Linked DNA regions of Homo sapiens. The protein of the gene in region 2 purifies or fractionates together with the protein of the main gene of each other region. This does not show direct contact. Each region holds a gene or a part of one and is shown on either strand. Other genes may lie near its edges.

Region 1 (3,819 bases), on a different chromosome or scaffold from region 2:
CCTAAATAACACATTTTATTAAAAACACAAAATCTTCAATGTATCAAAAATTTTATTATCAGATTTTCACAATGTTTATGTACAAACTAAAATTATATTTTCTACATCATCACACAAATTAAAATGTTCAAACATCAATGTTCAGAATATGTTTGAATACGTCTATTCAAAAAAAGCTGAAGACATTTTAAAATGATGTTTTCTTTGTCCTGTTTTCAAAATCTTCCCAGACAGGATGTTGGACAGCTATCACATATAATATGTGTGAATGAATATGATAAATGTGTCCTTTGCAACAAAAAGTCTCATACAATTTATGTAATTATAGGCATGCTGAATGAATAGTTTAGAATAATGTGCCAGTGTCATCATCAAATCGTATCTTTGTATACATGTGTAATCCATTTTGCACAATGGTTTCAATTCACTGTGTATGTAATTAAATTGTAAGATACGGTAATAGCGGCTGCTGACTTGAAATTCTCCTTTTTCATTTTAAAGAAATGAATAGAAAACATAGTCTAGTGAACATCAAAGTATTTTTTGAGACTGTTAAATCTCATCAAAGAGGTCTTCTGGGCTGCTGTTTCTCAGAGTTTCTAAAGACATGTTTTCAGCTGAGATGTGCTCCTTTTTAGACGTCTCAGGTAGTGAAGAATCAGGCCTAGAACTGAAAAGAAAATCAAAATAGTTTTATTTTTAAAAACTTCTGTTATAGAGTAAAAGAAAATGAAGAGACACATAAGTGAAATGACAGTTAAATCCTGTTTCAAATTGGTTTAGAGATTTATTTCTCTATGCTATTAACTATAAGGAAAGAGATAAAGAGACTAATTTCTCTAACTGCTTTAGAATTAATGTCTCTATTCTGACCTAAGGAAAATTCAAGAACCTATAACAATACTCATAATCAAGGTCAAGAAATAAAATATTCTGTCCTCTGTGCTATAATCACTTTTATGCCAGGATATAGAAGGTTTTTCAAGTTACTCCTTTAATGATTTCATCACAATTTACATTTTACTCTGGCTTTCTTAAATTCTACTGATTAACATGCATTTTAATCTCTTAGCAGCAGAAAGTTTTGGTCACATGAATTACCTTTAGTGGGTCTGATGATCATGTGTATATATGAAAAATAATGATTTTTCACATTTATAGCAGTTGCTGATGAAATGTTGGTCCATAATCATTTATTGAATCTGCATATCTTCATTTAGTAAACTAAATTTTATTCAGGTTCAGTATTGTAGTCACTACTTCAATGGATTGACTGCTATATTTATGTAGATATTTTCTTTGAATCCTAAGATAACAGGCTGACTGCCATGATCACTATTAATTGGTCTTAGGAAGACTGTGCCAGAGAATAACAGAGCTCAATCAGAAGTAAAGCTGTGGAGTGTGTGTTAATATCCTTGTAGAAACCTTGTCAGTGGTTCTCTATGGAACCTTAATAAAGTATGCTTAATATTATCAATTAGAGGTGGCCTCTGGGGCAATTATGATTAGGTTGAGCTAACCCAGTAATACTTGGTAATACCCCTCTATTTCCAAGTTCAAAGGCGGGGGTAGAGTCACAACACCTTGGTATAGCTGAGAAAGCATGGGACTTGAAGTCAGGAAACACAAGTTTGAACCCAGGTCTATTTCATGTTAGCTATGTAACTTTAGGCAAGTCATTTAAACTAAGTGGGCTTCTATTCTGTCCACTGTAAAACTGAGATATTAGTATTTGTCTAGAGGTGGTCTAAAGATGAAATGAGTTGATGTAAATGTAAATGCTTGTAAATTCCCACAAAGAATTTGGAAACTATTATTATTACCTGCTAATACCCCATAAACTATGTAAGAGTTTCGTTAACAGCAGAGAAGAATAACCAATGAAAACCCCCAAATATCAAGTGTGTTTAGGTGATGAGTATTTTTAAAAGCCTGCACCCTTACCTAGTTGCACAGATTATTAGAAATGAGTTCTCCTTGGCATCTTGATTAGAGACAATTAACTACAGTTGGCTGCCACTAGACCTGGGACATGTTCTGTCTTATTCTGAGCAAGCCAATTTCAGACAACATCATCACAGGAGTGCCAAGGTGCTAGGCATTAATGCATTCAAGATGACAAGTACTACCCTCTGGGATTTGCGATGTTAAAATTAACAATAAATACAGGCATAATTATTGTAACATGGAATTAAATATCTAAAAATATATTCCAAAGGAGGAGAAAATGATATAGTATGGGATAAAAGTATAATTATTATATATATACATTTTCATTGTCAACTCAAAACACGTTAAACATTTTTCTCTGGCCAAAATGTCTTAGAGTTGCTTGTGCTCCTCCTAGACAAAAGAGATAACTGAACTATCTCAATTAAAAGTAAGAAATGGAAAAACAAGCAAGGTGAATACAATAAATGGTGCATGGAAAACTGGCTAGCCATTTGCAGAAGATTGAAACTGTGCCCCTATGTATTAGTCCATTCTTGTATTGCTATAAAGAACTACCTGAGACTGGGTAATTTATAAAGAAAAGAGGTTTAATTGGCTCACAGTTCCACAGGCTGTACAGGAAACATGGCTGAGAAGCCTCACGGTAGAAGGTGAAAGGGAAGCAGGCCCGTCTTACATGGCCGGAGAAGGAGGAAGCGGGGGGTAAGATGCCACACATTTTTAAACCAGATCTCATGAGAACTCACTCACTATCATGAGAATGGCAAGGGGGAAATCTGTCTCCAGGATCCAATAACCTCCCACCAGGCCCCTTCTTCAAGATTGAGGATTACAATTAGACATGAGATTTGGGTGGGGACACCAATCCAAACCATATTGCCCTACCTTTCAACATATACAAACATTAACTCAAGATGGCTTAAAAATTTAAATGTAAGATTTCAAACTATAAAAAACTTAGAAGAAAACCTAGGAAATACCCTTCTCAACACTGTCCTTGGCAAAGAATTTTTGGCCAAGTCCCCAAAAGCAACTGCAACAAAAACAAAAATTGACAAGAGGGACCTAATTAAACTGAAGAGTTTCTACACAGCAAAAGAAACTATCAACAAAGTAAAGAGTCAGCTTACAGAATAGGAGAAAATATCCTCAAAATATGCATCTGTCAAAAGTCTAATATCCAGAATCTATATGGAACTTAAATCAACAAGCAAAAAGCAAATCACCCCATTAATAAATGGGCAAAGGACATGAACAGACACTTCTCAAGAGAAGACACACAAGCAACCAACAAACATATGAAAAAAAAATGCTACACATCACTAGTCATCAGAGAAATGCAAATCAAAGCCACAATGAGATACCATCTAACACCAATCAGAATGCCTGTTATTAAAAAGTCAAATAATAATATATGCTGGAGAGGCTGCAGAGAAAAGGGGACACTTATACATTGTTGGTGGGAATGTAAATGACTTCAGCCACAGTGGAAAGTAGTTTGGAGATTTGTCAAAGGACTTAAAACATAACTATCATCCAATCCAGCAATCCCGTTACTGGGCATATACCTCCCAAAAAACCCAAAGTGTTCTGCCAAAAAGACACATGCACTGGCATGTTCATTGCAGCACTATTCACAACAGCAAAGACATGGAATCAACCTAGGTGGCCATAATTGGTGGACTGGGTAAAGAAAATATATTACATATACACTATGGAATACTACACAGCCACCAAAAAGAATGAAATAATGTCCTTTGCAGCAACATGGATGCAGCTGGAGGCCATAATTCAGAGCAAATTAATGCAGGAACAGAACACCAAATACCTGTGTTCTCACTTATAAGTGAGAGCTAAACATTG
Region 2 (3,819 bases):
GCGTTCACAAACACCTTACCTTCACGGGCGGCTGCAATAGTTTTCATTAAGCACTGGTAAACACACCCAGCGGGATGCGAGCAGCCCAGGGGCTTCCGGAGAGGCCGGCACTGCCCCGACGGGGGCGGGACCTCAGAGCAGCCCACTCAGTTCTCGGAGTCAGTTTCTCACCAAAACAAGGCTGGGCTAAAACACGCTGAGAGGTCATTGGGAAGGCCGTTCAGCAAGCTGCTTTATGAAAATCAGGAGACACCAGATAAACTACACCTTTTACTCCAATATTGTTATTTTTTCCACTTTCATTAAACATTGGCTTTTTCCTTAGATAGGTCCTGAATTCAGCCCAAAGAACTTGCAACCCATAAGGGATTCCACACCGACAAGCCCCGTGTTGTTTGCACGGGCAGGTTACGCTCACTGAGGAACGCTATCAAAGATGTGGAACCCAGAACCCGGGAAGCAGCTGTACCTCCTGCACCCACGCCGCCTGGCCCGGACCACGAGGGAGCCACGGCTGCCCCATTGTGGCCTCCTGGACCCCACTTCTTCCCTGCGCCAGCCACGAAGGACCATGTGGTCCTTTTCGGGTGCTGTGGTTTCTCGTCCCACACCCTGACGCAGTGATGCCTGCTCACCTGCTGACCCCTCCGGCTTCTGTACCTGCTGTCCCCTCCGGCTTCCTGTCTGCTGTCCTCTCTGGCTTCTTGTCTGCTGTCCCCTCCAGCCTCCGTGCCTGCTGACCCCTCCGGCTTCCTGTCTGCTGTCCCCTCCGGCTTCCGTGCCTGCTGTCCCCTCCGGCTTCCGTGCCTGCTGTCCTCTCCGGCTTCCTGTCTGCTCTGTTCTCACAGGCACAAGGGTCCCCTACCTCCGTGTCTACTGCACCCAGCGGACAGGACCAGCGGCAGTGACCAGCTTGTGACTCCATCAGAACCTTGCATGTGATCGGTCACCTGGCTGGGTCCTCACGGTGCTGCCGCCCACTTTACAGATGAGCCACCTGAGCATTAGTAGAGTGAGCTCTGAGGCAGCAGCCCAGCAGGACTGACCTCGGTGGCCATCCCCATCGAGACCTAGGCCTGCTGTGCACTGAGGCGCCAGCCGTCAGGGATGGGCACATTGGGCATCCACCACCTCCTCGGCCCACTTCCCTCTCCAGCTGTACACCAAGCACGACTCTCTCCCAACCTGCAAGCAGCCGAGACTGCAGCTGCCCCCATGTCTGAGCAGCTCCTGCAACCCTCCTCCAGCCGTCGCAGTACCGCATCTCTTCATCCCCACGTGCTCTGGCCTTGCCATCCCTGCACCTGCCCTTCCCTGCTGGGGCCGACCCTCACCCCCCAACCTCACCATGCACCAACACTCCCGCAGGACCTGGCTGGCACGGCGCCTCTTCCTTTGCCAGGATTCTCTAAACCTCCCTGTTCCATGAGGCTGATTCCTTCCTTCTTCTCTCCCCTCCTTCGTTCATTCATTCAGTCATTCACTTGGGAAGCGCTCCTGAGCACGTTGTCCTTCCTTGAAGATGGGAAAAGAGGTGCCAACTCCTGTTCTGGAGGAAGGATTCTACCACATCTGAGTAGAAAATGTCAAAGCCACATGTGTCAATGAACACAGCCCCACTTCTCCTGCAGCACAGCAATGACTCCTGTCCAGTTCTGCACACAGTCCCACACACGGGGCCAGAATGAAAGTCGGCCCCAACAGAGTCACCAGGCACCCAACCAGACCAACGCCATGCTGTAAGAAGAAAAAGGGGCCTCTTTCCAATGGAAACAAATCTGAGCCAGCATCTTCAGCTCTGGGACTCCAAGGGAGAGGCAGGTATCACAGGCAAGTTGCAGGGTACAGCTGGGAGATGCACACACCACACAAGGACACACACAGACACGCATGTACAAACACGCCACACGCAGACACGTGTATGCAGGCACACAACACACAGGCGCACATGCATACACAGGCGCACATGCATGCATAGACACACAGGAAAACACACAGACACACATGTACACCCATGCCACAGGCAGACACGTGTACACAGGCACACAACACACAGGTGCACACACATACACACACAGGCACACATGCATGCACATATACATAGGCAAACAGCCAGACACTCATGTACACACACACCACACACAGACACGTGTACACAGGCACAAGACACACAGGCGCACACACATACACACACAGGCACACATGCATGCACATAGACACAGGTGAACACACAGACACACATGTACACAAGTGCCACACACAGACGTGTACACAGGCACATCATACACAGGCACACACATGTACACACACAGGCACACACAGGCAAACAGATATGCATGTACACGCACACCACACACAGACACATGTACACATACACACATACATGAACATGGACACATGGACACACACCACACATGCACAGACACAGACACCACACAGGCACATACGTATGTACACAGATACACATGCACACACATGTACACACACATCCCAGACATGCATGTACACACAGACCACATGCAAAACACACATACATACACCACACAGGCACATACACATGCACACACGTACACATACACATACACACACGCACACCACACAGGCACACACATGCATGCACACACATACACCACTCAGGCACATACACATGCACACACGTACACATACACATACACACACGCACACCACAAAGGCACACACATGCATGCACAGATACACACCACACACACCTGCACAGATGCACACAGACATGCATGCACACATACACCAGACACGTGTGCACAAAGGCATACACAGACACGTGCACACATAGGAACAGCGGCACACATACATGCATGCACATTGACAATATGCACACACAAGCTCACAGACCCACACCTACACACAGACATCTCTCCCGGACTACCAGAGCTGCAGGAACTGGCACCAGTGCCAGCACCGTGGACAGCGCCAGCGATTCCTGGCGTGTGAAGTTGGGGCAATCCACTCCCTGAGGTGCAGGAGAAACCAGAAGATGACAGGGAGATGGTGAACAGGAAGTGTGACTGCTCACAGCAAGGCACTGGCAGCTCCAACTTCATCTGAGGAGTCTCAGGAAGACAGAGGCCGCCTGCCTGCTGCAGACCCCTTGGCCCTGGAGGATGCACCTGCAAGGGCGAGTGAAGCTGTCCTGTGCGTGCAGCAGTCACAGCAAGAATGGATTCTTATTAAAAAGCATCCAAGCATCCTGCGCTCCAGCACATGTTCCCCAGGCTGACACCAGGCTGGGTGCCTACCAGGAGGAGGCCTCTGGGACAGGGCTCTGTGGCCTTCCCTACAGAAGGCCCAGCCGGGCCAGCAAGGCCGGGCCAGCAGCATGGTGCCCTTGGAGCTCTCTCCTTGACGCGAGCGGCTGGCACCACTGGACCACCTTGATGGGAAACTGCAGGACAAGGAGTCAAAGGACTGGCCTCAGGGTGCAGTGAGACGAATGCAGGGGGCACTGTGGGGCAGGGACTCTGCTTAAATCCAGGGGCGCATCCTCCCACCACACACACAGCAGCAGGCGGTGAGGACAGGCCTCATGCAGGGAGACAGGGAGCGGCCGGACAGCCTGGCACTCCTCTGACTGCTCAGGGCTGGGCCCTGGGACGGGGCTCCCGCCTCCATGAGGCTGTGGTCCTCACCCCAGCATCTGAGGATCGTCTCTGCCAAGCAAACCCCACACAAGCTTTGCCTCCTCCGGAAATGTCCCTGAAGCACACATGGAGTCAGGGAGAGGGCCAGAGCCAAATCCCTCACAATGACCAACCACCAGGGAGGAGGCTCCGCCAGCCCAAC

The links.
Region 1: the proteins of ERICH1 (region 2) and XRCC4 purify together in Homo sapiens (affinity purification with mass spectrometry; one large-scale study listed by BioGRID and IntAct). This does not show direct contact.

Annotation. Positions count from the first base shown.
Region 1 is NC_000005.10:83,349,976-83,353,794, reverse strand, and holds the end of XRCC4 (DNA repair protein XRCC4), read right to left. Parts: intron 671-3,819; coding exon of another isoform or gene 665-670; coding exon 553-664; 3' UTR 35-552; downstream 1-34.
Region 2 is NC_000008.11:724,406-728,224, forward strand, and holds part of ERICH1 (glutamate-rich protein 1), read right to left. Parts: intron 1-3,819.